Linked DNA regions of Homo sapiens. The protein of the gene in region 1 purifies or fractionates together with the protein of each later gene. This does not show direct contact. Each region holds a gene or a part of one and is shown on either strand. Other genes may lie near its edges. The genes, in order: GDPD5, GOLIM4, MTARC1, LEMD2, TEX264, STX16 and NDUFA12.

Region 1 (4,267 bases):
AAGTTACCCAGACGGGCTAAGCGGCAGCCTCGAGCCACAGTAACTGGTGAATCCCAGATAGTGGTAAATCAGACAGACCAGGTGGGCGTGAGTCTACTGTGCCTCCCACTAGCTGAGTGGCACTGAGCAAATCACTTCATCCCTCTGAGCCTATAAAATTAGAATACCTCCTTTAGCAGGTTGTTGCGAGGATTAAATGAGCTACAAAGATGCAGTGCCTGGCCAAATATCCGTTTCCATCCCTATGAAGAAAAGGAAGCTTGAAGTTTGACCAGGAAGTCTGGGGAAATTCTCAGACTTGTCTTCGATTAGAACGCAGGATATGGTTGCAGGGCAGGCTCAGAGACCTGAATTTGCTCAGCTCAGGCTGCTGTGTGGGTCACACTCCCCTAGTCTCATAGCCTCTAGAATCAGTCTGCTTGGGGACACCGGCAAGGGGCTCTGGATTCTTACCCCCTCCCTTGGCTTCCTGCTGGCAGGGCTGTGGTGCCTGGAGCTGGTGTCCATTCCCTCGGGCCCATTGTCTGACCTCCCTAGGCACCAAGGTGCAGTGAATAATTAATACTCCCCTCAGCTGGGGGCAGGCTCAGGGAAATAGCTCTATGTTCAGTGAGCTTCTGAACCCTACCAGAGGAGGTGGGGGCTCCTGTCTGTGCTGTTAGCAGTCTTGGATATGGGGGGGCAGGCAGGATAGGACAGGGAGAAAGTGTCATCTGGCCCCCAACAGGAGAGAGCTGGGGTTGATGATGTCCTGTCTCTTCTGTTGGGGGCCAGATGGTCCCACAGGCAACACTGGGAACCAAGCTAGCTGAGCTAGGATCAAGTGGGCCTCTGATTCCAGAGAGGTGGTGACGGGGAGGAGTAAGGGGGAGGGTACAGGGCAGAAAGGGGTGGAGGGGAGGCCCTTGAGGACTGGAGTAACCAGGAAGGCTTTGTCAGGGAGGTGGCTGTCTGGGCAGGAGCTAGAGGAAACTTGCTGCAAAGACGGGGGGTCCTGACATCCCTCCAAGAAGGAATCCTGGCTGTGCCACCGCCTCACTGAGAGCATGGGAAAGACACATGATCCCATCAGGCCTCCATTTCCCCCTTTGTGAAATGACGGTTGTGATGTCCACTTCTCAAGGCTGTTAAGGATCATCTTGAGGTCCCATGTGTGAAACACACGGCACTTTAGGCACTCAACAAGGGGGTGCCTCATCATGAGTGTGAGCTAGTGGGCTAGTGGCGGGGCAGGTGGGATAGCGTGGTAAGCCGAGAGGTAGGGAGAACTTGGGGCGAGGAGGATGGCTTGGTGGGGTTAGTGAGGGGTGAATGCCCATATAGGAGAGGGCCTTGAATGTTAGACAGAACTCACATTTCAGAAAGCTTAATGGAGCCCCCATTTAGAAGCCTCTGTGGCTCCTTACGGCCTGTAAGATGAAGACCAGGCCCTAGTTATGGCATTCAGGTCCTTGGTCACCTTAGCCTCTGCCCGGCCTTCTGGCTCATTGCTCTGCACTGTCTCCTAAACACACCACATGTGGCCCCATCACAGCCCCTTTGTTTGTGGTTCCTCCCATCAGAACCGCCATCCCTGCCTCTGCTCCACTTACCTCCCCACCTGTCAAGACCTGACTGAGGTCATAAATTCCCTCAGAAACATTCCTGGATTACCCAACCCTCTGGTCATGCCCCCTCTGAATCTTTAACATTCAGCAGTAATAGTAAAAAATAATACCTACTATCCATAACATTTTGCAGTTTGTAAAATGTATCCACACAATACTACAGTGATGATATCAACAACAGCTGATATCTTGAGTACTTACTATGAGCCAGACAATGTGCTAAATGTTTTATAGACACTCTTGTTCACACAAACTCCCTGAGGTAGCTACTGTTATCCCCTAGAAACTGGGGCTCAGAGAGGTACCTGATCTTGCCCGAGGTCACACAGCTCAAAGGTAGGGAGCAGGGAGCCAAGCTGCATCTGTTTGAATTGTAAATCTGTGCTTAGAAGATGTCCTGTCTCCTCACCTCCACCCAAGTACCTTGAAAGCATACTTTGTGTGTAAAAAGCCTGGACAAGGTTTTTTCTCAAGGCTAAGGAAGGGCAGTGTTGGACTGAGCATGGGGCCCAGGAAGGACCTGGGCCCTAGGCCGTGCACAGGCTGGCTGGTTGTCTGTGTGACCTGGGGTGAGTCGGCCCCTCTCTGGGGTCCCGTGTGTCCATGTCTATGGGGAGCAGGGTGGGTTCTGAGCTCCCCTGTAGCTCCAGCTTTCTACATCGTCTTTCGTGACCCTGGAGGGAGGAGGAGGAGACCACAGCACCAGGGCCAGAGGATGTGGTATGACGGGCAGCTGTGATTTTTGGCCTGGCCACTGTCTGGGCCAGCAGGCTGTGTGGGTAGCTGCCTCGCCCAAAGGAGGGTGGTGGCCTGAGCTGCAGGCAGCATGGTCATTAGCTGGCAGAGGAGACCCTGTGATTGGGAACTGGCTGGGCCAGGCCAGGCCAAGTTGGCGGGACTGGAGGCAGGCTGGCCGGGCCACAGCGGGGTCACTGGCAGGGCAGCCAGCTTCTCCTCCCTTTGCCCCCTTTGGGGTGGTGGCAAACACACACTGGGCACCAGAGCTTTGTAGGCCAAGGCTTACCCTTTCTCCTGCTGTGACCATGGGAAAGAGCAGTAAGGAGTTCAACCAGGTCCAAAGATGCTGCCTGCTATAAGCTTCCAGTACTCCTCCCATGCAGGTGGGATCCAAGCCTCCTCTGCTGCTGATTCATGGCCCTCTGCACACTGACTGTGGTCTGTGGATTGGGGTTCTGCTTGGTCTGCTTCCCTTGCTGGCTTGTCAAAACTAGATTCTATGTGCCCCCACCGAATCCTCCCCTCCCTCTGAGTGCCTAGCAGTGTGCCTGGCACAGAGCCACACCCTCCGGGCCAGGGGAGGCAGTGCAAGCTGCCCCATGGACAACTTGCTCAACTTTTGCACCTCTGTTTTTTCCCTGTACATTGGGGCTGATAATAACTGTTATTAAATGAGATGAAGGAAGTGGGGTGCCTGTCCAGGCCTGGCACACAGGTGGGTACTCCATCAGCATGAGTCTTCTTGCCCATCCCCTCGATGGCTTCGTGAACGAGCAACTCAGTAAGAAGCTGATGGAAGAGTCCAGTGAGTGATGGCTGGAGGGAGGGCGTGCCAGATGGCAGGGAGGCCTTCCCTTAGGGGGACTTAGCTGGGGTTTGCAGATTCACAGTTCCCACCACCTTCCCTGTGAACAGTGGTGTGTAAGCAGGTGCTGTTGGCCTGGAAGGGTCCCGAGCTAGGTTCAGGGGAGGGAGCAGGACTGGGATATCTGGGGACTTGGGTTTTCTTCTCAGGCCTACGCAGAAGAAATGACCCAGGTGGGAGAAGCCGTCTGGCGTCCAGCTAGCAGATGCTGGGCAGAGAGTGTGAGTTCTTCCTTAAAGGGAAGCAGCATTTATTTGGTGCTGCTCACACACACATCCAACCGAAATGTAACATGGTTGGAGATTCTGGTCTGTGGGGGAAACAGCATTAGACAAGGAAACACACAGATGCAAAACTTCCAAATTGTGAGAAGCAGGCTCCTGAGGCAGGGGCCGGTCCCATCAGTATCTGTGGCTGGTGGCACAGGGTAGGGCTAAATGACTTGGGCAAGTGATTTAACCTCTTTGGGCTTTAGTTTCCCCATATGTAAAATGGGGATAATTACAGCATCTTCATCATAGAGTTGTGAGGGTGAAATGAATTATACGTGTAAAGCACTCAAAAAAATGCCCAGCACATAATGAGCACTCAGTGCAGGTTAGCTGTTATGATCTGTATCTCCAGCACCTCACAGAGGATCTTAGAGAAAACAGGTGCTCAGGAAAGGCGTTTGGAATGAATCCCAGGCAAAGGGCAGCTGCTCCGTGGAATGAATGAATGAACAGCCTGGTAGGGTTGGGAGGACACAGAAGCAGTGACAACACAGAATGTGACAGGGAAGGCCAGGGGCCTGGGGTTGCCCGGCGCTGGGTGGGGAGGGGAGTCAGGGAAGCCTTCCTGGAGGTGGTGCCCATGTTGCTGACTTTGGACCTCTGTGAGATCAGCACTGAATGAGCTGAGAGAGGAGTAGCTCCTCTCCAAAGGTAGCTGGCAAGGAGGAGAGCTTGGGCAGACCCCAGGACCAGTGGACTCCACAGGCCTCTCACTTCCCACCAACCCACACCATCTCTCCATCTGTGACATTCTGCTTTCAGGGCATGAGGAAGGCGGAAAGGCA
Region 2 (4,267 bases), on another chromosome or scaffold:
GGACTTCATGTATAATCACAGTTCACCTGACAAATAGTCGTTAATAAACCAGCTCTGCCTCCTGAGTTTGTCAGGAGAAACAAATGAAGAGAAAACCCAGAGGAGCTAACCCCTCTTGCTCTGCACCAACTCTTTTTCACCCTAGGTGTACCCTTCAGCCAAGCCAATGATCAAATTCCAATCACCCTATGAGGAACAGTTGGAACAGCAGAGACTGGCAGTGCAGCAGGTGGAGGAGGCCCAGCAGCTGCGGGAACACCAGGAAGCTTTGCACCAGCAGAGGCTGCAGGGGCACTTACTACGGCAGCAGGAACAGCAGCAGCAGCAGGTGGCAAGAGAGATGGCCCTGCAGAGGCAGGCTGAGCTTGAGGAGGGCCGGCCGCAGCACCAGGAGCAGCTCCGGTAGCCTTCCCCTTCCTTAATGAACGAAGACAGCCCCTGCTCCAGTTTTCATACGCAAATTAAAAACAGTTTTGTGCATTTGTGATTCATGAAGTTAAGGGGCTCATATTGCTCAAATAGCCAAGGCAGGACAGCTACTTGAAAATTAAATACCAAATATTTAATTTTAAAAATAATATTTTTTTTCTGCTCAAAAGTGGTAGGTTAGGTCTCCAAATAGCCTTGCAGGCTTTGTGCCAACTTTATTTTATTTTATCTTTAAAAGATATTTTATCTTTTTAAGATACCTTTTGAAAGTGTATCTGGAATTTTTATTATACCTAATTGCATACATAAGAGGTTTTTAAAAATTTTTCATGGCTTCTTAAAAATGTTGAGAAACATTACTTATTACTGTCTTTAAAGATAAATGACCTATGTCAAACTGTGCCTCTGAATTTTGTCCCACTGGATTTATCATGTTTGTGTCTCTTGTAGGCAGCAAGCTCATTATGATGCTATGGATAATGATATCGTTCAGGGAGCAGAGGACCAGGGAATCCAAGGAGAGGAAGGAGGTGGTGAGACTTCCTAGATGATGAATGTTTTAATAAATTACTTGATAACATTGTATATTATCAGTGAGCCAATATTATATAACATCAATGAGCTGTATGCATACCTAAGTGCAAAGGAGGTTTGTGAATCATGTCTTTTTCTTAATCCTCTTAAACAGTACATGCTGGTAGTGAAAAATGCTCAAGATAATCTGTTTCCTCTCTATCATTTTCCCTGTAGTTTAAGCTTTTTATATACTAAATATTTATAATATTTCTGACAAATTATTATAGGATTATTATGCTTTGGGAAACATCTGCATTTTCTCCTTACCTTGGAAGTCCTCACATCATTGCCTTAAAATGTTTTCAAATTAAGTCAATAGTAGCTTTCATTTATGATAAGCACTTAATATGTAATTTATCAAATATTGCTTACTGTTATAATAGAACCAGAATGTAACTTACTGTCTCTCTGGCACCACTAACACTTAGATGTGTATCTTTTTCTAAAAAGTCAGAAAGAAAGTGATTACATACAACCTCCCTCAATAGCCCGTTGTGATATCTTACAGCTCTTACAGTCAAGAAATTGTTTTCCTTATGTCCGCCATGTGGCACTTTAAGCTTTTTTGTTCTCATATCAGTAAGACTAGAGAATGGCTTGTCCTCTTCTCTATGTAGTAAACCCCTTTGTGCACTTGAAGGCTGATGGTAAGTTACCCCGTATCATCATTTTCTCTAGGCTTAGTACACTCCATATACTTAAACTTTCCTCTTCTATCTTACTTGTTTTAAAAAGTGATTTGTTCTTCTCTTTTTGTGCTCATACAATTCTCTTTATCTAAATATTTTTTCAAAAAGCAGCAAGTAAATGTCTGAGTATGAATGTGTGCTGTTTCTGGGCTGTGGCGGTCATCATCATTACTGTGATGACATCAGAAAACATGTGATGGGCTATATTTGTTTCTGAGCTCCACAGATGGGGCAGTTCTTCCTTGCATTTCCTGAAACTATCAATTTCTTCTTTTGGAGCCCAGCTACTTCCTCTGATATTATCAAACATTAGTTGATTTCTTCAGCAGTGTCCAATCAACTGGGCTTTCTTTTATTGAGAGAGTTTTGATTGTTGTTGTTTTCTTGCATATGGGGGAAAAATTACAGCTCCTGTGAAAAATATTTATTTTAGAAGAAAAGTGTCTGACCCATATCATCTCTCTAGACACACAGTCTGTGAAGAGAACATAACCTTATTCAGAAAAGCCAGGACATAGGCCTTATGTTGAGTTAACAGAGGTGGAGGTATTGTAGTCTGTAGAAAAGTCCACTGGTGGCTTTTCTTTGAGTTGAAAGGGAAATCCTGTTTGATTCATTTTGGGCTGATTTTAGTTCCTTTGATTTGCTAGCCTATGAAAGAGACAACCAGCACCAAGATGAAGCAGAAGGAGATCCAGGTAATAGACATGAGCCTCGTGAACAAGGACCCCGAGAAGCCGACCCAGAATCTGAGGCAGATGTAAGTATCCTCTCTTCTGCCCCTGACACATGTAAACTCATAAGGTGGGAAAGAGAGTTGAAAACTTGCCTGATGCCAGCCTTCAGCCCCAGATATTTCTGTTATATCCTCAGCCCAGAAGGAAAATGGCTTGCATAATTATATATGGGCAGTGTTTTTAACTGTAAACCATGGTGTACGTGTATGTGATGAGCTGGTTTAAAAGTTGCTCTGGGGGAAAAAAAAAAACAAAACCAGGATTTTTTTTTTCTGATGACTTTTAGATTAATAAAACTAAAACCTAGAAAAGCAAAACTGAGAGACACTGAAATATGTAGTAACTCTGAAAGCTAGGAGGAATAAAAGGCAAGTGTGGAAGTTGGAGATGGGACCAGAGAAAGGAAACTAACCCTTCCTGAGCATGTTGAGCAGTCTGCTAGAGTGTTAGGTATTTGTGTGACTCTCTGTAATCTCTTAGCAGTCTAGTGACCATTTTAATAAATATATGGATAAGGATATGTGGTCTGAGACATGAAGAGTTGTTCAGGTATGCAATGGTACAGAAAATTTATAATATAAGTAGGTAGACATCTAATAACCAGCATTGTTGTTTGTGTTTACCAAAAAAGACTGAGACCTCTAGTTCAGCTGGGTGGGCTAGATCCTTGGCCCTGCCTACAAGTGAAGCAAGCAAATGTTTAGTGAGTCTGTTCCTGCGTGTATGCGTAGATGATTTTTACAGCTTATTTTAGCTGCCCTGTCATCTCTTGCTAATAGATCAACTACCATGTTTATAACAGTCGGTCTGTGCTATGTCACATGAGCCCTGATTAAAAGGAGGACCCATGTCCTTGCTAATCATCAAGAAAGTCATCCTGCTAGCTACTTAAAGCCCTTTTGCTGGAAACAGCTTTTCCACTTAACTTGCACTGAGATGTGGCAGAACACCTTTCCCTGGCATTCCTTGCATCAAGATTTCTGAAAATATGCTCCAGGGAACCTAGTCCTGAAATATTTTCAGGAAAAGGCTAATACTTGAGAGCAGAAACATATGAGAGAGCAAGAGACTATCCAGGAGAGAGCAAGAAAGCAAGTGTACAAAGGCCTGCAAATGTGCATGGGGTGGGAGGAAGGGCATTTCAGTCACTTGTTTGGGAACTGCTGTAGGCTTTGATTTCTTGACTATATGATCCTTTACTTTCCTGTCATCTGTTTGTTTGTTTTGGGGAACATGCTGGGAAACATTGGCCTTTGTACCATTCTTCCTTTTAATTAGAAATGGTTAATCCCACTTGTTCCTCTCTTTCTGTTTTATTTGAACGTAACAACTGTGCCTGCTAATTCATACCTGTTACGTGGTCGGAGTTGAGCTAGTCAATTTTATGAACGTTTGCAAAAGATATTTGGTACTTTTTTCTGAAAAGAATATGTTACATTTTTCCTGTAATTCCATACAAATTTTTGATAGTGCACTAAAGAAAATCCATATGACAAGAGATTGTGGAGTAATTAGAGTTTAGTGTGAAGGTGGTAATTTGGTAGTCTCTACGTTCCCAAGAATAGTGTCATTTGCACTGGAGTAACATTCATGGCCAGGGATGTGCAGATAATAGATCAGCTGAGATGGCAGTGAACTCTCAAACATGTTCAAGACTCCTAAGTGAATTGAAGTAGAATCTTGTCTGGAGAATACTGATAGAGACCAAATCCTACTCTGTGGCTTTACTGTCTCTTAGAAGCATTTACAGCTTAGTAAGTGTCCTATTGATGACCTGCGAGTGATTGGGGAAGCTCATGACAAGCATCACTGTTCCTCTCCATCTCAGGCTCTAAA
Region 3 (4,267 bases), on another chromosome or scaffold:
TGGAGTGTAGTGGTGCAATCATAACTCACTGCAGCCTCAATCTCCCGCTCCTGGGCTCAACCAATCCTTCTACCTCATCCTCCCGAGTAGCCATAGCCAGGACTGCAGGCACACACCACCACACCGAGTGCATTTTAAAAACATTTTGTAGCGACAGGATCCCATTATATTTTCTGGGCTGGTCTCAAACTCCTGGGCTCAAGCCATTCTCCCACCTTGGCCTCCCAAAGTGCTGGAATTACAGGCATGAGCCCCTGTGCCCAGCCTCAGTCAGCTTTCACAGTCTAACTTTGTGCCAAGAAGTTAGTAAGATCTGAAACTAGTCAAAGTAGCTTCCATTTATTCACAGTTTTAAAAACATTTTTCAAGTTTAGTCAACTTCCCAATATAATCAAAGGACAAAATGGCAATAAAAAATATACTTCATCAGATCTTAGAGTTATACAATCAGTTAAAAAATAGATATTGGGTTTTAAACAACTGACATATGCTTTCCTTTTCCCCCTTTAAAGGTTTTCAGTAGTCTATCTGAAATCACTGAATCACTTTTCTTCTCCTCCACAGAATTCAGAACTTTTTCACCCGGAACTGGAGAAGGAGCACTCCGTCATTAGCTGAGGGGAATGGCAAGGATCCAGGGGTCCTCCATGACTACACAACCATCCTCCTGAGCACCTTTAGGAAATCCAATGCTGTCTGAGAAGCAGCAGGGCCAGATCCAGATCTATGGAAAATTAATATCTGCAGTGCTTCCTGAAGGTCACCTCAGTCTTTATGCCATTTCAAAAGCTAGCCCGGGGCTTGAGAAGAAAAGGGAAGTGGCATTCCAGCCATATTTGGGGTGCAATTTAATTTTCATTGCGTACCTCATGAACAGGGGCAATAACACATTCTAGGATATTCTTCCAGCCCACCCACTCTTCCTCTTTCTCTTCTTCTCTTTCTCTAACGAGTGGTAGTGACAGGATGCAAGTCTGCGCTCTTGGTAGATAAACGGAGAAGCAGGAGAAAGAACTATTCCATAATCAGTTAAACGGGGAGTTTTCAGAATCCTGTCTTGTCATTTAAGTGACTTACTGAAGTCCTACTAAGTTATTGAGACTATATTTCTTTACTTTTTGCACTGGGACATTGAAGCATTGAGACACCAGAAGTCCAAAAGACGAAAAATGTGAAAATCACAAATTTAAAGAAAATGTAGAGGTCTCAGTTCTGAAACACCATGCTTCAAGTGTTGTCATTTTTGAGAACATTTTTAAAAGGCATCTAATATTCCAGGACATACGGTTCCCATTACTGGCCCAGCAGGTACACAGGGTCTCCCACTTTGATGGTCCCTGGGTTTTCCAGCACAAAATACTGCCCAAAGAGTGGTGATTTTCCATATAACTTTCGTTCTGAAGGGTCACACTGGCGATAACTGCAATAGGAAAAGATCATGATGAGTCACAGCCAAGCGGATGCAAGAGCTCAACCAGCACGTGGCTTCCATCCCACACAGGGCCTCCGCACGCACAGCTCGAGAGGGCACCATCCCGTCAAAGCTCAACAGAACAGCGCCTCCTGGAGTGGGGCAGTGAACAGCCTGCCCAGCAAACAACGACAGAAGCATAAGCAATGGCCACATCCCCACATCTTTTCTCTACCTTCATGTTCCCCCTTTCGGCATTAAGACGTTAGATACTTGGCCAGGTGTGGTGGCTCATGCCTGTAATCCCAGCACTTTGGGAGGCCGAGGCTGGCAGATCACAACCAGGATGGAGATCAAGACCATCCTGACTAACACGGTGAAACCTCATCTCTACTAAAAATACAAAAAATTAGCCAGGAGTGGTGGCAGGTGCCTGTAGTCCCAGCTACTCGGGAGGCTGAGGTGGGAGAATGGCATCAACTTGGGAGGCGGAGCTTGCAGTGAGCGGAGATTGTGCCACTGCGCTCCAGCCTGGGCAATGGAGCAAGACTCCGTCTCAAAAAAAAAAAAAATTAGATACTCAATGTGTCTAGACATACTTTATCATCTTCCTTTGCCCTAGGCATCTTTCCTCCTGTCTCCTCCATGTCTGTCACCTGAACCACCATCCTAGCCGTCACTTGGGCTGGGAGCCCATCCTTTACACCACTGTCCTCTCTTCCCACAGCCTGTCCGCAGCTGCCGAGTTCCAAGGTTCTTCCTGTACAACATCATTTGACTTGGCTTGCTTTTCCTCATTCCGACTGTCACGATCTTGCTTCCAGCATGCTCAGACTATCATAATAACTTCTTAACCAACCTCTTTTCCTCATTCTCTACCTGTTTTCAATTCATTGTTGACACTGCACTATATCACTGTTTTAATTGTGTTCTGGTCTTATCATTCCTAGGCTCACAAACCTTCCGTGGCTCTCCAGTGCCTAAAGAATAACATTCCAACTATTCAGCCTGGTATGTAGGGCTCTACCTGGCCCCAGCCTGCTTTTTCAGACCTGTTGCCATCTGCTCCTTACCTGTGCCTCTGCAGCTCTCTGCTGGATTTCACCTTGCTTTGCATTGTACTGACTCGGTAAGTCCTCTGTGATTCCTGTGGGATGCTCCTCCTCCAGGTCCCCATGCTTTAGAATTGTACCTGCCTCAAGGCCCAAATCAAACACCACATCTCCCAGGAAGGAAGCCCAGGTTCCCCCAGCTACGAGTAATTCCCCCTCCTCAATTCTCTTTGCCCCTCCAATACTCACACATCTTGTCCTGTAATGTCAGGGCACAAGTTTGTCTGTTCTACAAGGCAGAGTCCCTGGAGAACAGGAACTGTGATTAATGCCCTTGTACTGCTCACGCCCAATGCCGGGCCTCCTACATCACCTGTGACCCACCATTGTTTGCTGGCTGGATTAGTATGCTCATGAGTAAAACCGTCTGTCAGAGGCAGTATAAATATGAATATTTTTGTCCAGCAGAAAATTAAAGAAGACGCAGGGAGAGGGTACATGAGCAGATGTGTGGGACTCACATGGCAAGATTCCCCCACCTTCCCCACTGGGAAGAAGTTAACCTTCAGTTTTTTATTTAATCTAACCCTAATTTTACATCATTTTTATATTTAAAACATTTTAGATAAATCATTCATTTTATTCTGCCTTGCTTTAAAAAAAAGTGAAAAAGTGACTGCAACAACTTGGTTCTAATGTTGTTCTTCAAATCAGAAATTGTTAAGGAGAAAACAGAGAGTCAAATCTAGAACCACCTTCTGGAGACCTGCAGCTCCTTCCCCAGACTGTAAACATCCTGTAGGCAGCACTGTGTCCACTTTGTTCTCTGTTGCATTCTCATGGCCTGGAACAGTGCCTCACACATACACTGTAACCACTCAAAAATAATGTTGGTTGAACAATGAATGAACAAATGAATGGATGAATGAAAATAACAAGCTGCTGATGCAGGCTTCCCTGCCTTGCCAAGAGTATTTCCTCTCTCTGTAATCAGGTTTCTGCAATGCCCTTGGACCTGACAAACCAGGCATCTCTCCTAGCCTGGCTCTCCTCTTTCAGCATGCAACATTCATGACATTCTGAGATCTATCTGTCAGAGGGTGACCTCTTCAGGAACAGGGGACACATCAGCTGCTTGTATGGGTGTTTCCGTTGCTGCCAAGCTCTGCAGTCTAAGAGTCCAGACTCTCATTATCTTGGGGAGAAATTGAGAGTTGGAGTTCTGCGCATCACACATGGATAGTTTATAAGGAACTTTACACATGTTCTCTTTTTTAATCCTTACAACCTGCTTATGTGGGAATTTGCCTTTTCTTCATTTTACAGTTAAGTCTCAGGGGGAGTAACAGACTTGCCTGAGATCACAGATCTAAAGGATCCAGCTGGGGCCAGAGCCCAGGCCTGGCTGACTTCAGAGTCTAGTGGACTCTTCCCACCCAGGATGTAACCCTGGTCGTCGACATCCTCCTGAGTACACCCACAGGCCTGAGAAGAACCGAGGGGTCTCACAATTTAGTCACCTACACCAATTTCTAGCCACTTACATTTTTCACCTATCCCTTCCTGCCAACCAAGCACAGACACACTCACTCCCCCACCAGGTAATGAGGAGCAGAGGACCGTAAAGAGCGGCTGCCCCTCTCGGCACAGCCTCCCTAAACTGCACAGGTCGGGGTGAGGGAGCTGCTTTGTGAAAGTGCAGGTGTGGTCACCGGCTCACAGGTGGCGGTCCACTCCGCTGTCTAGGAGTAGAAGCGGGAAGAGCTATGGGAGTGGAAAAGGGGTTCTCGGTGGGCCGGCCTGC
Region 4 (3,500 bases), on another chromosome or scaffold:
CAACATGAAAAGGTGAGTGTCATCATTCTTCTGTGTTAGCAGCTTCAGTGAGCGCTGCTGCTGAGGATAAAATCCGTATTCTCCTCCGCCTTTTCTAACACAGGAAAATTGCTCAGCTACTCAGGGCAGCTTTTTTTTTTTTTTAAGCCAACAAATTTTAATCGTGCCATGCATCCAGTTATCCAGCTTGAGGTGGAGCTGCCCGAGGGGCTTCTGCTGGATGCAGTGCTGATGGAATTAGTAATTTGGGTGGATTAGAGAGGAAAAGAACAAAACTCTAGAGACGTTTTAATATCAAGAGCTATAACCTGAACAGAGACCCCCACAAACACCGAGAGTGGGAAGTGGGGAAGTGATGCTGCTCTGCCAGCAGGGGACAGGTCTCTCAAGGCTGCCTGGCTGTTGGCTGACACGCCCCTCCCCCTGGGCTGAGCCGCCAGATACAGCCTTTCAGCCTCATGAAAGGGTTTGCTACCTTTTCTAACAGTGCTCACCAGTGATAAAAATGAGGCAGAAACTGCCTGGTCAGAATAAAATCCAGTATTTCCTTATGCGATTTCCATAGTAAGTAAAACCAACATACAGAAAGAATAATTTCATCTACAAATAAAAACTAGCTCCCGAGGAGGGGAAGTGCAGAAAAATGCCTTCCCCAACAAACCATGTGGTGTTGTTGATGAATGAGAAAGGCACAGACTGAGTTACCTGAGACAGGATTTAGCTGGAACACCAGGCTAACATCCTAACACCTGGATTTTGTGTCTCATCTTGAAGCTGCTCCTTACACTGCATTCCAAATGCTTCTTGCTTTTGTTGCCCCACTTCCATCCTAACCCACATGATTCTGCTGGGAGACCCAGCCTCCAGCTTCAGACCTGAGACAGCTCTGTTGGAGCACGGGTGTTAGCTGACGAGCGAGGACAGTGGTTGCAGGCACCCATGCTGCGTCGCCACCCTGCCCACACTCACCAGATGCCCACGTCCTTGTTACTGCTCAGTATCCAGGTCAGTGCGGCTTCAAACTTGGCGGAGGAGCTGCTGGTCACATTCTGTGGGAGGGCGCGGGAGAAGGTTAGTTCGGCGTCTGGGCGGAGCAGCTGGAACATTATTCTGCTGCTGGATTAAGGAAGCCCTCTCCCGTGTCCTCCACAGCCCCAAAACCCTGTTCTGCTAAAAGCACAGCAAAGTGGCAGGAAGGAAATCGGGGGTTGATGAAAGCCAAGGAAGAGGCTATAACCAGAGGAGGTGATGCGGAAGCACAAGCAGGAAAACAGTGCGGGTCTGAGGCGGCCAAAAGAATATGATTCTCTCGAGGATGGAAGCATCAGGCCAGAGAGCTGGCAGCTCATCTTAGGGTAAAGCGAATAACAGCGTTGTGGCTGGGGGTGGGTGAGCCCAGTGGCCGGTGCAAGTGGTCTGGCCTCAGGCAAGTCCCTGACCCTCTCCAGGCCTCAGTTTCTTCATCTGTGAAATGCAAATGGAACCAGATGACCCCTAAGTTACTGGACAGGCAGGCGACCTGGAATACCAGCTCCATAGTTCTATAATCTACCATCCTGAGGCCACACAGGAAATCAGACGGCCCCTGGGCAGTCTGAATGGTAATCATACGGGGGAGAAGGGACAGCATGTTTCTCCTGAAAGCCGAAGGCAAGACGAGCAAAGTGAACCAAGGGAGAAGCAGGTAACAGGCACACCTACAGTGCAGCAGTCAGGAGTGAGCCGCCCCACTGCACATGGCGGCCTGGCTCTGGGGCAGTCACTACCATGGCTGCCTTAACTGAAGGTAGTCTAGCACAAAAAGCCATAAACCAAACCTTAACTTAAGGTAGCCTAGTACAAAAGCCACAAAGCAAACAAAAAACAAAAACCCCAACAGGGCTTGAAAGACCAATAGGAAAGCACCAGGCCCTCCCAGGAATGTATAAGCACTGAAGCCTACTTACGGCTATATATTCTTGGGCTTCCATAACAGGAATGCATTTGCTTTTTAGATTCTCTGGATTTCCACACTCAAAATTACCTAGGAGAAAAAAAACCACACATGCTCAAACACAAAGGAAAAATCACTCTGAAACAGACTAAAAAATGCAGCAAGAATCAAGCCATCAGCTCTAATAAGGAGCATGTTGCCCAGCGGCTCCTGGCTTCTGTGGGGCATCTTCACTCTGCAGCAAGATCAAAAGCCACTTAGCTTGGATCGATTCCAGATCATTAAAACCTGACCTGCAAAGCAGTGTGGCATTTTGCATTAAATGACTAAAAAGCTGCCCAATAGCAAGGTCTCTTTGCAATTGATCCCTAAAAGAATCAGACAGATAGCTTCGGAAGGTACCGGAATGGCACTATAAATAAACACAGCCTGAGAAAAAAGAAAGGCAGGGAGGCCATGGGCACCACGGGGATTCTGACTCATGACACAGGCAGGCGACCTGGAATGCCAGGTCTATTGTCTTGAGGGGCCCCTTGGAGGAAGAGGATGTCTGTGTGCTGGGCAGTGGGGCCTCAGCACAGCACGCCAAGGGGCAGCTCCCCCGAGTGGCTTTGGAGGCCTGCTCCCATAGGATGGAGCTGGCAGCCTCCCACTTAGTCCTGCCCAACCTCCCCGGTCCAGCCCAGGGGCCATCTCCCCTGGGAAGCCCTCAGCCCCTGGGGGCCTTTTGTTTGATGAAATGGCCCCAGATTTGGTGACCTGCCATAGCCCTTGGTCCTCGCTCCTGTGCTGTGGTTTGCCTGACTCCCCGAGAGCAGGGAGGGTGCAGGGCCACGCACGCATACACTATTTAACACGTGTGCGTGGCCTGACTGCCCTGACCCAGCACAGCCTGGGGGACTTCGGGTGGCCAGTGAGTGTGTTTCTGCATGCTGGGGAAGGGAGCAGCTGAAGGTCATATTTTAAAACTTTGAAACTGAACTGAAGCCTGTCGCCTTCCCCTAACACAGCCAGATCCTCCTACTTCAAAGTTGATCTTGACCCCAGGGGTCCCCTGAGACACAGGTGGCTTCTAGCATCCTCCTTTTCCCACTAGGACTCTTCCTGCCCTTGCCAGGCCTGCCTGGACCACGTAGATGGCCTCTCGATTCGGTTCCTCCTCTCCCTTTCCCAATCCAGTTGTTTTGTCAATAACACTTGAAAATGATTCTGCTTAACTGTGCTACTCAAGCTGCTGCCGCATTCACCTTCCTGGCACCTGGCTCTCAGCATGATACTCCCTTGCTCAAAGCCTCTCTGGCCCTCACTGCCTGCCAGATCAAGCTCTGGTGGCCTGGCATCCAAGGCCATCTATGGTAGGGCCCAACCAACACTTCCAAACTTCATTCTCTCATCTTCCCCTTCCTCCATGAAGGTGCTGCTTCCCACTCGAGATGTAATTTCCTGCCGCTTTGCCTTGTCCTTCCCCACATACATGTAACCAGTCTTACCTGGGCTTCAGGGCCTGGCACAGATGCTACCTCCTGTGACGCTCTCCTGACTGCTCCAGCTAAAAGGCATTGTGCCT
Region 5 (4,267 bases), on another chromosome or scaffold:
GAGAGCGGGGCGAATGCTATAAATAGTCGTGTTGTGAAGATTGGCGGGTGAGCAGTGACAGGGCAGGGGCCTTGCAGTCATCATAGTGGGTATTTGTGCTCCTTCGCAGGAAAGGTGGCGGGGCAGGCTCTGAGTAAGAGGCAACTTGACCCCTGTTCTGGCTGTCCCTGCCTGCCTCAGGGTGGCTCTGGCATGTCTGTGCCCCTCCATACTCATTGGGGGATGGGGAGCACTGGATTCTGTGTCTAGGCAGAGGGAGGTGGAGTGCCTTTTGGAACTTGGGGCCCAAAAGGTGGTACATCAGCCCACTGGGTAATGTCCTGTGCTAGATCTACTTGTCCTACCTGACCTTCCAGTCCAGGGTCTCCCTCTTCCCCATCAGCTAAAACCTGAGTTTACATGTGAGGAGGTATGGGAACCATACCTGATAGTCTCAGAGGTTGACATAGCTCTAAACTAGCAGGGGAATGAATGGGAGTGGAAGTGGTGTTTAGCTGGCCTTGATCCTTGTTCAGGGTCTATAGTAGCATGTCTGCAAGAGCAGGGGCTGGAGGCCTAAGGACTGGGGGTGCTGGTCTTCTGATATCTGTGGGTCAGTCAGCGTTGTCCAGGGTGGAGAGGAGGTCAGGGCCAGGGGGTCCTGGGATGGAAAGTCTGGTAGGTGAGACCTTGGCTTAGGCACATGGGGTCCCTATCCTGGGGTGGTCCAGGGGTGCCAAGCTTCATGGCTCTGTGAGACCAGTGCCTTCTGGAACAGCTTTTTGGTCTCAGATGTACACATAGGAGAGCAGTGCCAGGCTCCTGGGTTCTTTTACCACCTGCCCTAGGGTGTCGTCCTGGGTCTTCAGACTATTATTGCACTCTGGACTATGGGGCCCTGCTGTTAGGGTGATCTATGTGTGCCTCCCTCAGCAGGGCTTTGGAACTTGGAAGAGGTTGAGAGGCAGAGCCAGCCCCTGGGACAGAATAGGTAATAGACAGTTCTGGGGGTCACCCAGGGACAAGTGAGTCAGGGGCCCTGTAGGGCTCATTCTACCTTTTGCCACTCTCTGACTAGGAGCGGAAGCTGTGTGCCTATCCTCGGCTGGAGATCTACCAGGAAGACCAGATCCATTTCATGTGCCCACTGGCACGGCAGGGAGACTTCTATGTGCCTGAGATGAAGGAGACAGAGTGGAAATGGCGGGGGCTTGTGGAGGCCATTGACACCCAGGTGGATGGCACAGGTACAGAAGGTGGGGTATGAGGATGGGGCCCTCCTGGAGCTCCTCTCTTCTGGACTCCAGGGGCTTGGTTGAGGAGGCTCCTCCCTCTCTGGGTTGGCACTGTGGGTGTCAGGCTATGCTTGGCAGAGGGAGGAAGGAGACCCACCTACCTGAGGACCCACATGTGGAGTTGCCTGTTCCCAGACACATGGATCTACATAGATGTGGATTCACACACATTACCTCCTGGCAACACAGATACAAAGACCCTGCCTGGATTCCCTCCAGATGCAGCAGGAGTACCCTTGGAAACAAAGATCACAGACAGCTCGATGTTCATGGGAGGGGGCTGAGGCTGCTCAGGAAAGGAGTCCCTTGGGTGGGGCTCAGCAGGAAGTAAGATTGGCATAGATCTGGAAGGTAAGGAGGGGAGCAAAGTGTTCTCTTGTCCCTCAGTACGGGCCCCACCCAGAGCCAGCTGCTTTCTCCCTGCCAGGGAACAACCAGGGAGCATGCAGAGGGGAGCCAGGAGATCAGTCACCTGTGCCTTTCTCCAGGGCCAGCCCACACTCCTGCTGGCAGCCTCAAGGCCCCAGGTCCAGGCTGGAAGGCTGCTTGCCTGCCCACCCCTCTGCAATGATCTGTGACCCCGGGCTGTCTCAGGCACAAGGGGGTCTGCTGGGTTACATCCCAGATGGTCCCAGGGGGCCTTATCCTTGGCCAACCTGGTGGAGTTTGTGACTTCTAGGAGTGGTACAGGGCTGTGGGGAGAGGAACTGTCCCTCCTCTCCTCCTTCTTTAGCAGATGCTCTGCCCATCCAGTCTTCAACAGCCAAGGTCACCCTAGGGAGACGTGTCAGCTAGGGCTGGGTAGGAGGGTATTGGGAGCAGTCTCTACTCCCTAGGGGCCTGTGTCCAACACAGTTAACTTCATCTGCCACTTAATTACCTCCATGGGGTACAGCTCCCTTCTGCCTGGTAGTGCCCGGCAGACACTCTTCAGTGCCCCTACTGTGGGCACAGGACATGGCACAAGGTCAGCAGGCCCAGGCAGCCTCCAGGGCAGGAAGACAGAGTGCCTTCACTTTACTGTGACCTCCCTCTGCTGCCTGCCTCCCCCTCCTTGACCCACCCACCCAGCTTCCTTCCCTCCCAAACACTGCCTGTCAGGGTCATTGAAGGACTGCTTGGCACCCACTACAGCTGGCTGTAGTGGCAGCTCCCACATTCCCCAGCTCCTCAGCCTGTTTTCCTCCCCTCCAGCCCGCCCACCCACTCCCTGGTGTTGGGGCCAAGGGGTCTGCCCACCTCTCACAGGGCCTGTCCTGACACCCCAGCGGGACTCGGTGTTTGCCCACCAGGTGCATGCCACTGACACAGCAGTTGGTGGTGGGTGCATGCAGGATGTCTGACTGCCCAAGGCTTGGCCTGTCCCTGCCCGCCTCCCTGCTGTGGCCCTAGCTTAGGCCGGGAGGTGAAAGGGGGTGATTAGCTGCCTTGTGCCTGTTATTACATTGATGTATTATTTAGCTTCAGAGAGGCGATGAATATTTGATCGTCTTGCACTGGCTGTGGGCAGAGCGAGAGGGAGGGATTTGGGTGAAGGGGGTGGGCTTCAAGTCCCCTGCCCCAGTAGTCGTGGGGATTTAGGTAGGGCCCTGCCTTGCCTGGTATCTTCTGCCCAGGGATGCAGGCATGGGACTCTGGGACCTCCTCCTGTGTAGATCTTGGTGGGGGTATAGGGATGCTACTTCCCCGTATTGCATTCCTTTTTTTTTTTTCTTCTGCGGCAAGGTCTGGCTCTATCGCCCAGGCTGGAGTGGTGCAGTGGCAAGATCTCGGCTCACTGTAACCTTTCCCTCCCAGGCTTAAGCTGTCCTCCCACCTCAGCCTCCTGAGTAGCTGTGACAAGAGGCGTGTACCACCATGCTTGGCTAGTTTTTGTATTTTTTATAGAGATGGTGTTTCGCCATATTGCCCAGGCTGGCCTTGAACTTGTTAGCTCAAGTGATCCTGCCTCAGCCTCCCAAAGTGTTGGGATTCTAGGGATGAGCCACCATGCCCAGCTGGATTCCTTTTTTTTGTTTGTTTGTTTTTAAAGACAGTTTTCCTTTTTTGCCCAGGCTGGAGTGAAATGGCATGATCTTGGCTCACTGCAACCTCCACCTCGTGGGTTCAAGCGATTCTCCTGCCTCAGCTTCCTGAGTAGCTGGGATTACAGGTGCCTGCCACCATGCCCGGCTAATTTTTGTATTTTTAGTAGAGATGGGGTTTTGCCATGTTGGCCAGGCTGGTCTGGAACTCCTGACCTCATGTGATCCACCTGCCTCAGCTTCCCAAAGTGCTGGGATTACAGGCGTGAGCCACCGTGCCTGGCCTCCAGCTGAATTCCTTTGCTTGAAGTGTATATATGTCTCCAGGGGCTGTCTTCATTTCAGCAGGCTGTCCTGGCCTGAAGGAGGCACCCCTAGGCTCCTTCCTCTGAACATTCCTAGCCTAGGAGCTGGGTGGTAGGAGGTAGCATGCTGGGAAGCAGGCACATTCCTATACCTGGGGTCCCAAGAGAGCCATTGGGTGGGTGGGCAGACAGAACATACAGTTTAATAGGGCCAGGGAGAAACTGTCTCCCTCCTTTGCTCTTTTCAGGCCTGCGGTCCCTGGGGCACTGATCATTATTTAAGGAGCAGTGAGGGCCTGGCATCCTGTCCCCTGGTCAGAAGAAACTACCCAAAACTTAAAGCTCCCCCAGCTCCCTGACCACCTCATTCACAGGCTTCTGTCCTGGGAGCCACACCTGGGGCCTCAGCAAGAGGAGGGCCCTGGGCCAGCAGCCTGGGCTTCTAGGGCTCACCTCACCTCTGCCAGTAGCGCCCAGAGGGCATATTCTGGGGGCTGAGTGGGTGGTGGGGGTAGGGAGAGACCCCAAATTCCCCCCTCTCCTAATTCTCCCACCCCCAACCTAGGCCCCATTTGAGGCTCAAGGAAAGCCCCAGGCTGAGTCCAGGCGCCAAGCAGACCCCAGCTGCACCTGGCTTGGCTCCAACACCATGGAGACAGTGGCT
Region 6 (4,267 bases), on another chromosome or scaffold:
TGAATTATAGGAAGAAATTGAAACCCCATGCAACAAGGAAGAATGTGATTTTCTGGTAATTTGAATTAAAAGCTGCTCACACATCAGCAAGCCAACAAGTTTGCTGAAGACCGAATTCTGTATGCTGAGTGTAGCTGATGGAGGCAGACCATAGCCTGCCTGGCATCAGTGGAGTTCTGTGACTTCATTTGCTTAGATTCAGTATGATGTTGGCCGGATTAAGCAGAAGATGAAAGAATTGGCCAGCCTTCATGACAAGCATTTAAACAGACCCACCCTGGATGACAGCAGCGAAGAGGAACATGCCATTGAGATAACTACCCAAGAGATCACTCAGGTGAGGAGTGCAAGTGAGTCCTGGGGAAACCAGCGAGCCTTCTCATGGCAATCTCAGAAACTAGAGTGTTACTCAGAATCAGTCTCCTGGAGTCATTTCCCAACCTGAAGTTCTCAGAGGGACCTCAAGAGGCCCTGAAGTCCTCCAGCTGTCAGCGTAGGTACCTGTGAGGCCTTGGAGGTATGGGGACTGTTTTTCAATTGTTGGCAGATAACTGCTGTGGACGGATTAAGTAAATATGAAATTTCAAACATTATCGAGTTCAATCATTTGATTTTAAAATGTATAACTAATATCGTATACTAGTGTTAAGAAATTTCAATGCTAAATTATAGTCCTCATAATTGAAAAAACAACTTAGTATCCTAGAAAAAATTTTTTATAAATATTAAATTTGATTAATTTTAAAATAATAGGACTAGTGTTGAAACCTCAGTGTTTACATTTTTTACTGAAGTCTCCTGGGTGCTAATTATCAGAGGAGTGTGGTGCTTTGAGAAAAGCCCTGGGGGGTTGGAATGTTGGAACCCTGGCTCTTAGCAGTTTAACAGTTACACGATTCTCATTTAATCCCTCTGACTCTAGTGTTCTCATCTGTAAAATGGGACTAATAATCATAGTACCATCCTCATAGGATGCTTGTTAGGGATTAAATGAGAGGAATGCAATAATAATATGATATATGATAATACAGGTTGAACATTCCTAATCTGAAATCCAAAATGCTCCAAAATTTGAAACTTTCTTTTGAGTGCCAATATGACACTCAAAGGAATGCTCATTGGAGCATTTTGGATTTCGAATTTTCAGATTGGGGTACTCAACTAGTAGGTATTCTGCAAATATTCCAAAATCTCCCGAAATTTGAAATCCTAAACATTGCCAATCCCAAGCATTTCGGATGAGGGATACTCAGCCTGTCTAACGTGATGATATGTGAGCAGCTGGGCACACAGCAGGCCCTACATAGCAGGAGCTGAAATCTAGTGAAATCTTTCTGTGTATATAAATGAAGCCACAGATTCCTTTTATCTGTTCACCTTTCTCTAAACCAGACTGAGTGAACAGAGCCTCTCACTTCTCACTCTGGCTTGTGATGTGGCAGTGTTAGCAGAGGGGCTTCTCTCCCAGGCTTGCCCTGAGCCTCGGGCTTGTTCTCTTAGCTCTTCCACAGGTGCCAGCGTGCCGTGCAGGCCCTGCCGAGCCGGGCCCGGGCCTGCTCCGAGCAGGAGGGGCGGCTGCTTGGGAACGTGGTGGCCTCGCTGGCGCAGGCCCTGCAGGAACTCTCCACCAGCTTCCGGCACGCACAGTCAGGCTACCTCAAACGTGAGTGCTGCCCGGGCCTAGTGAAGGGATTTTGAGTAAGAAAAGCACTTTATGTTTTCTTTTTTGCCACTATTTTTTCATTTAGTCCAGTACCTTTCATTGTTAGCTTTTGAACATGCTCATACCTTGTACAGTAAAGGGAAGCCTCCTCCCCATGTGAAACCCTGGCTTGGAATGAAGGCACAGCGTGGGGTACCGACCAAGGCTGGGGGAGGGCACCAAGATAGTTCAGCATCTCAGCAAACAAAATTTGTTTTGTGTCAAGCTGCAAGAATTTGAAAATCAACCAAGCACATTTTAAAAACCTGTTGTTTTCTGGATGTTGGGGTTTGGGAGAGCTGCTCTTCAATAGGTAAAAAGCAGTTGTTATTACTGAAAGCCACATATTTGCATAACAACCAAAGTGTTTGAGAGCACCTGAGAAAACCTCCCCAGGGTCCTTGAAACACTTCCTCTGCTGGCACCACAGGTTTCACCCAGCAGACCTTTTCTTCCCAAATAGTGCAAAGCCAGATTTCAGCTCTCTTCTCATTCTAATCACCCTGTAAACTGGGTTTTTTAAAATTGCCCTTGCAATCAATAAAGTCCCCACATACTCCAAAAAACCTAGTTCTCCCTCCCTCTGACAACTGGCATATTTGTATTTTAATTTTATTATTTCCAAAATTTGATTAGGGCCATATGGAATTCATACTAGAGATGCTTCTAGAGAGAAATACTGATTTTTTAAAATGTTTTGTAACAGCAGTTAGATTAAATATTTCTGCTTCACTTAGAGATTCTCAGATGGTTGTGTCATTTTTATCTTGGCATCAAGTGAATTGTGCACATTTACACTGTGACTTTTGTCTTGAGTAATCCCAAATGCCTGCATATTGTTGTATGTTTGTAATCCTTTACTCTCCCTCCACCCCCATTGGAGATAGGCTTCTTTAAAGCGGCTAAGAATATCTCAATTTTGACTGTTGGAGTTTACTCTAGAATTCCCCCTTTTAATGGTAGAACAATACTCAGGATGGTTTACATATTCAAGTAAAATGAATTCCTATCTGTGATAGGCATGAAGAATCGAGAGGAAAGATCCCAGCATTTTTTCGACACATCAGTACCACTAATGGATGATGGAGACGATAACACTCTTTACCATCGGGTACGTGAACGGGCTGCAAAGCTGATTGCTGTGTCTGTGCACCCCATTCTGCATCTTTCACCTCCTAGACCTCGATCTTCTGTGCAGTGTCAGTGGATTGATACAGTTGACTTGTATATTCATCAGGTTGTTTTGCAGCAGGTGGAAGAACAGCCGTACTGTTTCTTCCTTTCCAAAGGCCACAGGGAGACCTTGTAATCTGCTTTCCAGAGCCTTTGGGAAAGTGGTCAACACCCTGCCTTCTTAGGAAGAGCCCAGAGAAACAGAGGGCTATCCCGGGGGTTTTGTTTATCTGCCCTTGTGGAGTTGGCAGACGTGGGCTTCTGTCTTCCCTGCTATGGCCTCAGAGCTTTAGATCCTGCTGGTTTAGGGAATTTGAATCTTTCCTGTTAGGGAAAAATGAGTGCTTACTGTGCTTTGTAGAAATATTTTCAGAATTCATTTTCTTTAAATTATTTTCATTGTCTTTAAATTATATCTAAACAAGTATACCATAGCTTTCCTGAGAGGGAAAACAATCTATCCAACACATTGTGCACTGTCTTGCTAGGGTTTTACAGAGGACCAGTTAGTTCTGGTGGAGCAGAACACACTGATGGTGGAAGAGCGGGAACGAGAGATTCGCCAGATTGTACAGTCCATTTCTGACCTGAATGAAATATTCAGGGACTTAGGGGCGATGATTGTAGAACAGGTACGTGAGCTGGCCTTCCTCGTGAATAGGTTTTCCTGCCATACTATCTGTACCTTCTTTTTCCTGTACTCCTTTCAGGGAAAAAAATTGGAGCCAATTTTCCCAACATGTGTGTGCACCTGTCCTTTATGTGTGTGTGGGTGTGTGTGTGTGTGTGTGTGTGTGTGTGTGTGTGTATATTAATATTAATCAAATATTAAATTTGATTAATTTTAAAATAATAGGACTAGTGTTGAAACCTCAGTGTTTACATTTTTTACTGAAGTCTCCTGGGTGCTAATTATCAGAGGAGTGTGGTGCTTTGAGAAAAGCCCTGGGGGGTTGGAATGTTGGAACCCTGGCTCTTAGCAGTTTAACAGTTACATGATTCTCATTTAATCCCTCTGACTCTAGTGTTCTCATCTGTAAAATGGGACTAATAATCATAGTACCATCCTCATAGGATGCTTGTTAGGGATTAAATGAGAGGAATGCAATAATAATATGATATATGATAATACAGGTTGAACATTCCTAATCTGAAATCCAAAATGCTCCAAAATTTGAAACTTTTTTTTGAGTGCCAATATGACACTCAAAGGATATATATACATAGCAATCCTAATCAGAAAATATGAAGTTCAAAATGCTCCAGAATTCAAAACTTTTTGAGTGTTAACATGATGCCACAGGTGGAAAATCCCTACACAAGACCTCATGTGACAGGTTGCAGTCAAAACTTTGTTTTATGCACAAAACTAGTAAAAATATTGTGGCCGGG
Region 7 (4,267 bases), on another chromosome or scaffold:
TCTTGATTGAGATGAAAAGTATCAAAGAGGAAAAAGCAATTAGTCTTCATCCAGGGGAACAATGTATAACGTGAAAAAATAATTGCCTGGCATTTATTGAGTGATTACCATGTGCTAGGTGCTGTGCTAAACAAAAACATACGTTATCTACCTTAATCTTCAACATCTCCTTGAGATAAGCACTTCTGTGCTCCTCCGCCCCCATTTCACAGATGAAGAAGGTAAGTCATTGAATAGTTAGGAATATTTCTCAGGAATGTGGTTGCTTTGGATGCATGTTGGTCTATAAGAAGTAAACATCTTATGTACTCTATGTGTGTGCGTGTGTGTGCGTGTGTGTGTGTATGTGTGAGTGTGATGAGGTCTCACTATTTTACCTGGGCTGGTCTTGAACTCCTGAGCTCAAGCAATCCTCCCGCCTTAGCCTCCTGAGGAGCTGGAATTACAGGCACATACTGTCACACCTAGTTATGATATTTTTAATACATAAATCACAGAATTTTAGACCTAGAATAGATTTTAAGAGATTGTCTAAAAACTATTGTTTTATAGATGAAGAAACTGAGGCCCAAGGAAGTATCTTTACCAAAGAGACTTAATCATGTAATTAATGGCAGAACCTGGGGTAATTATTCTTTCTACTTCTCACTGTATTGTTACAAACTATAATATTACATTCTTTCCTTTCTTTAATTTTTTTTTTTTTTTTGAGACAGAGTTTTGCTCTTGTTGCCCAGGCTGGAGTGCCATGGCACGATCTTGGCTCGCTGCAACCTCCACCTCCCAGGTTCAAGTGATTCTCCTGCCTCAGCCTCCTGAGTAGCTGGGATTACAGGCATGCGCCATCATGCCCAGCTAATTTTTTGTATTTTTAGTAGAGATGGGGTTTCTCTATGTTGGTCAGGCTGGTCTTGAACTCCTGACCTCGTGATCCACCCGCCTCAGCCTCCCAAAGTGCTGGGATTACAGGTGTGAGCCACTGCAGCCAGCCTCCTTTCTTCTGTTCTCCCTTGCATTGGAAATATTCTTATTTTTGCTAATTAAAAAAAAATTAGGGCCTGGCATGGTGGCTCATGCCTGTAATCCCAATGCTTTGGGAGGCTAAGGTGGGAGGATCAGTTGAGGCCAGCAGTTCAAGACCAGCCTGGGCAACATAGAGACCCCCATCTCGTGTGTGTGTGTGTGTGTGTGTGTGTGTGTGTGTACCTATATATGTATGTATTTATATATATTTGGTGTATGAAAGCTCCCTCCCCTTATAATTTTGCAACTCTTTCAATAGTTTAGTCTTTATGTATATTTAAAATTCTTTTCTTTTATTTCGAGACAGGGTCTCTCTGTTGCCCCACCTGAAATGCAGTGGTGTGATCTCGGCTCACTGCAACCTCTGCCTCCCGTGCTCAAGTGATCCTCTCACCTCAGCCTTGAGAGTAGCTGGGACTACAGGCATGTGCCACCATGCCCAGCTAATTTTTGTATTTTTTGTAGGGACAAGGTTTCACTATGTTGCCCAGGATGGTCTCGAACTCCTGAGCTCAAGTGATCCCCCTGCCTCAGCCTTCCAGAGTCCTGGGATTAAGAAGTGAGCCACCGTGCCCAGCCAGTTGTGTTTATTAAAAAAAAAAAATGCACAGCATTTTTAAAAATAGCAACACAACATTCCAGTGTATGGAAGAACCATTATTTCTTCAATCCTGTTACTATCGATAGACACATAGATTGCTTTTGACTTTTTGCTATTAGGAATGATGCTACTGTAAACCTGCTTGTAACTACATTCATGTGTTTAAATAAATTTCTGGCCTGATCTCTACTAAAAATACAAAAATTAGCCAGGCATGGTGGCACATGCCTATGGTCCCAGCTACTCGGGAGGCTGAGGCAGGAGAATCGCTTGAACCCAGGAAGGGGAGGTTGCAGGCAGTGAGCCGAGGCCGCGCCATTGCACTCCAGCCTAGGCGACAGAGCGAGACTCCGTCTCCAATAAATAAATAAATAAATAAATAAAGTTGAATTTCTGAGTCTGAGAATAGGCATTTAACATTTCAAGAAATACAGAGAGAGAGACAGACAGAGAGAGAGAGAGATTGTTAGGGCCCACTTCCATCATTATAGCCTAACTGTATTGTCAGGGCTTGACTTATGAAACCTTTCCCAAGGTCTCCTCCATCTGCCTGCACATTCCCCTGCCTCACTGGATTATAGTTTACTTTTAGTTAGCTATTCTTAAGATTTATTTCTCTAAATGAAGCAGTAAATGTTGATTGAAATCTGTATTTTTAAAAAGAGATGAGGTCATGTTTAAGTACCGTTAGTCAATTTTTGTTGATTATATGTTTACCTGGGAAAACCCTGTAAATGAAATGCAGATTACCTTTTACTTATTGGTTTAAAGTCCATCATAGGAATGAATGGATTCAGTGTTCCCTATTGGCAGGTAAGAGCAGTAAGGAAGGGGTAGAAGGAATTAATACTTATTATGTGCTTATATGGCTGATGCTGAACTAGGTGAATGTATGTGATGTTTAATTTTCACAGCAACTCTAAGATGTAGGTATAGTCATCCACTTTTACTAGATAAAGAAACTGAGGCTCATAAAATTTGCCTAATAACCACTGATAATAAGTGACAAAGCCCAAGTCTTTGCTCAGTTTAAGGACCCAATTGTGTAAATAAGTAGTGGTTAGGCCCCTCAACTAGTGCACAGAAATTTCCTAAATGAGGAGTGCAGCCATATTATTTTGATGACATGAGCTGTCCTATGTACCTAACCATCATTTCTAATGTTTGCTTATTGTATATAATTCACAAATTTCCAAAAGGATCTAGGGTGGTTTTAAAAAAATACTTATGTGGAGACATAGAATTCAAGTATGATTGCTACAAATGTGTTTTTTCCCCAGTCTCAAGAGGAACACCTTCTTTTCTGAATACCCTGTACATCTGGGAACACACTTTCCTATCCTGTCTGCTACTCCCTCTGTGGGGAGCTGGCAGGGAAGCAAGGATTCTCCCCTGTGGGAAAGGCCTGAGCCCCACCCACAGCAGTGAATCATCTCAGTCCTTGCTGCGGGTTGCTGCTTAAAGTTTGCCACACACCTCCTGGAGCTTACCTTCACGAATTCACCCAGGGTGTTATTCCTCCAATAGCTCTCTTATATAAGATCACAAAAAGTCTTTTCTTAATAAAAAGGTTGTCTTCTTTGATATTATGCATCTATGCTTTAAAAAAAAAAGTTTTTCTTTTTAAATGTTCATCTTCCCACCCAGGCCGTCACCGATGGGTTGTATATACTACTGAAATGAATGGCAAAAACACATTCTGGGATGTGGATGGAAGCATGGTGCCTCCTGAATGGTAAGCTAAGACAACATTTTATTTGTCTTTCTTTTTTTTCTTTTTTGAGACAGGGTCTCACTCTGTCACCCAGGCTGGAGTGCAGTGACATGATCATGACTCATGTCAGCTTTGACCTCCCAGGCTCAAGTGATCCTCCCACATCAGCCTCCCTAGTAGCTGGGACTACAGGCCCATGCCATCTCACCCGGATAATTTTTGTTTTGTTTTTAAATTTGTTTGTTTGTTTCTTTTTTGAGACAGAGTCTCATTCTGTCGCCCAGGCTGGAGTGCAGTGGTACAAACTTGGCTCACTGCAACCTCCACCTCCTAGGTTCAAGCGATTCTCCTGTCTTAGCCTCCCGAGTAGCTGGGACTACAGGTGTGAGCCACCACGCCTGGCTAATTTTGTATTTTTAGTACAGACAGGTTTTCACTGTGTTGGCCAGGCTGGTCTCGAACTCCTGACCTCAGGTGATCCATCCACCTCGGCCTCCCAAAGTGCTGGGATTACAGGCATGAGCCACCGTGCCTGGCTTTTTTTTTTTTTTTTTTTTTTTTTTTTTGAGACAGAGTCTCACTCTGTTGCCCAAGCTAGAGTGCAGTGGCATGATCTTGGCTCACTGCAACCTCTGACTGCCAGGTTCAAGCAGTTCTCCTGCCTCAGCCTCCCGAGTAGCTGGGACTACAGGCTCATGCTACCACGCCTGGCTAATTTTTGTATTGTTAGTAGAGATGGGGTTTCACCGTTTTGGCCAGGCTGGTCTTGAACTCCTGACCTCAGGTGATCCACCCGCCTCGGCCTCTCAAAGTGCTGGGATTACAGGCATGAGCCACTGCACTCGGCCTAATTTTTGTATTTTTTATAGAAATGCGATTTCGCCATGTTGCCCAGGCTGGCCTCAAACTCCTAGGCTCAAGTGATCCAC

The links.
Region 2: the proteins of GDPD5 (region 1) and GOLIM4 purify together in Homo sapiens (affinity purification with mass spectrometry; 2 studies listed by BioGRID and IntAct, with this or other methods). This does not show direct contact.
Region 3: the proteins of GDPD5 (region 1) and MTARC1 purify together in Homo sapiens (affinity purification with mass spectrometry; 2 studies listed by BioGRID and IntAct, with this or other methods). This does not show direct contact.
Region 4: the proteins of GDPD5 (region 1) and LEMD2 purify together in Homo sapiens (co-immunoprecipitation; 3 studies listed by BioGRID and IntAct, with this or other methods). This does not show direct contact.
Region 5: the proteins of GDPD5 (region 1) and TEX264 purify together in Homo sapiens (co-immunoprecipitation; 3 studies listed by BioGRID and IntAct, with this or other methods). This does not show direct contact.
Region 6: the proteins of GDPD5 (region 1) and STX16 purify together in Homo sapiens (co-immunoprecipitation; 2 studies listed by BioGRID and IntAct, with this or other methods). This does not show direct contact.
Region 7: the proteins of GDPD5 (region 1) and NDUFA12 purify together in Homo sapiens (co-immunoprecipitation; 3 studies listed by BioGRID and IntAct, with this or other methods). This does not show direct contact.

Annotation. Positions count from the first base shown.
Region 1 is NC_000011.10:75,519,082-75,523,348, reverse strand, and holds part of GDPD5 (glycerophosphodiester phosphodiesterase domain-containing protein 5), read left to right. Parts: intron 1-1,491; exon of another isoform or gene 1,492-4,267. UniProt on the Homo sapiens protein: Glycerophosphodiester phosphodiesterase that promotes neurite formation and drives spinal motor neuron differentiation.
Region 2 is NC_000003.12:168,025,915-168,030,181, reverse strand, and holds part of GOLIM4 (Golgi integral membrane protein 4), read left to right. Parts: intron 1-145; coding exon 146-402; intron 403-879; coding exon 880-959; coding exon of another isoform or gene 960-962; intron 963-2,344; coding exon 2,345-2,454; intron 2,455-4,267. UniProt on the Homo sapiens protein: Plays a role in endosome to Golgi protein trafficking; mediates protein transport along the late endosome-bypass pathway from the early endosome to the Golgi.
Region 3 is NC_000001.11:220,810,445-220,814,711, reverse strand, and holds part of MTARC1 (mitochondrial amidoxime-reducing component 1 precursor), read right to left. Parts: intron 1,421-4,267; coding exon 1,294-1,420; 3' UTR 1-1,293. UniProt on the Homo sapiens protein: Catalyzes the reduction of N-oxygenated molecules, acting as a counterpart of cytochrome P450 and flavin-containing monooxygenases in metabolic cycles.
Region 4 is NC_000006.12:33,779,131-33,782,630, forward strand, and holds part of LEMD2 (LEM domain-containing protein 2), read right to left. Parts: intron 2,024-3,500; coding exon 1,947-2,023; intron 1,050-1,946; coding exon 970-1,049; intron 1-969. UniProt on the Homo sapiens protein: Nuclear lamina-associated inner nuclear membrane protein that is involved in nuclear structure organization, maintenance of nuclear envelope (NE) integrity and NE reformation after mitosis.
Region 5 is NC_000003.12:51,698,349-51,702,615, forward strand, and holds part of TEX264 (testis-expressed protein 264), read left to right. Parts: intron 1-1,057; coding exon 1,058-1,226; intron 1,227-4,267. UniProt on the Homo sapiens protein: Major reticulophagy (also called ER-phagy) receptor that acts independently of other candidate reticulophagy receptors to remodel subdomains of the endoplasmic reticulum into autophagosomes upon nutrient stress, which then fuse with lysosomes for endoplasmic reticulum turnover.
Region 6 is NC_000020.11:58,667,791-58,672,057, forward strand, and holds part of STX16 (syntaxin-16), read left to right. Parts: intron 1-196; coding exon 197-337; intron 338-1,500; coding exon 1,501-1,663; intron 1,664-2,721; coding exon 2,722-2,813; intron 2,814-3,363; coding exon 3,364-3,507; intron 3,508-4,267. UniProt on the Homo sapiens protein: SNARE involved in vesicular transport from the late endosomes to the trans-Golgi network.
Region 7 is NC_000012.12:94,993,262-94,997,528, reverse strand, and holds part of NDUFA12 (NADH dehydrogenase [ubiquinone] 1 alpha subcomplex subunit 12), read left to right. Parts: intron 1-3,271; coding exon 3,272-3,359; intron 3,360-4,267. UniProt on the Homo sapiens protein: Accessory subunit of the mitochondrial membrane respiratory chain NADH dehydrogenase (Complex I), that is believed not to be involved in catalysis. Complex I functions in the transfer of electrons from NADH to the respiratory chain.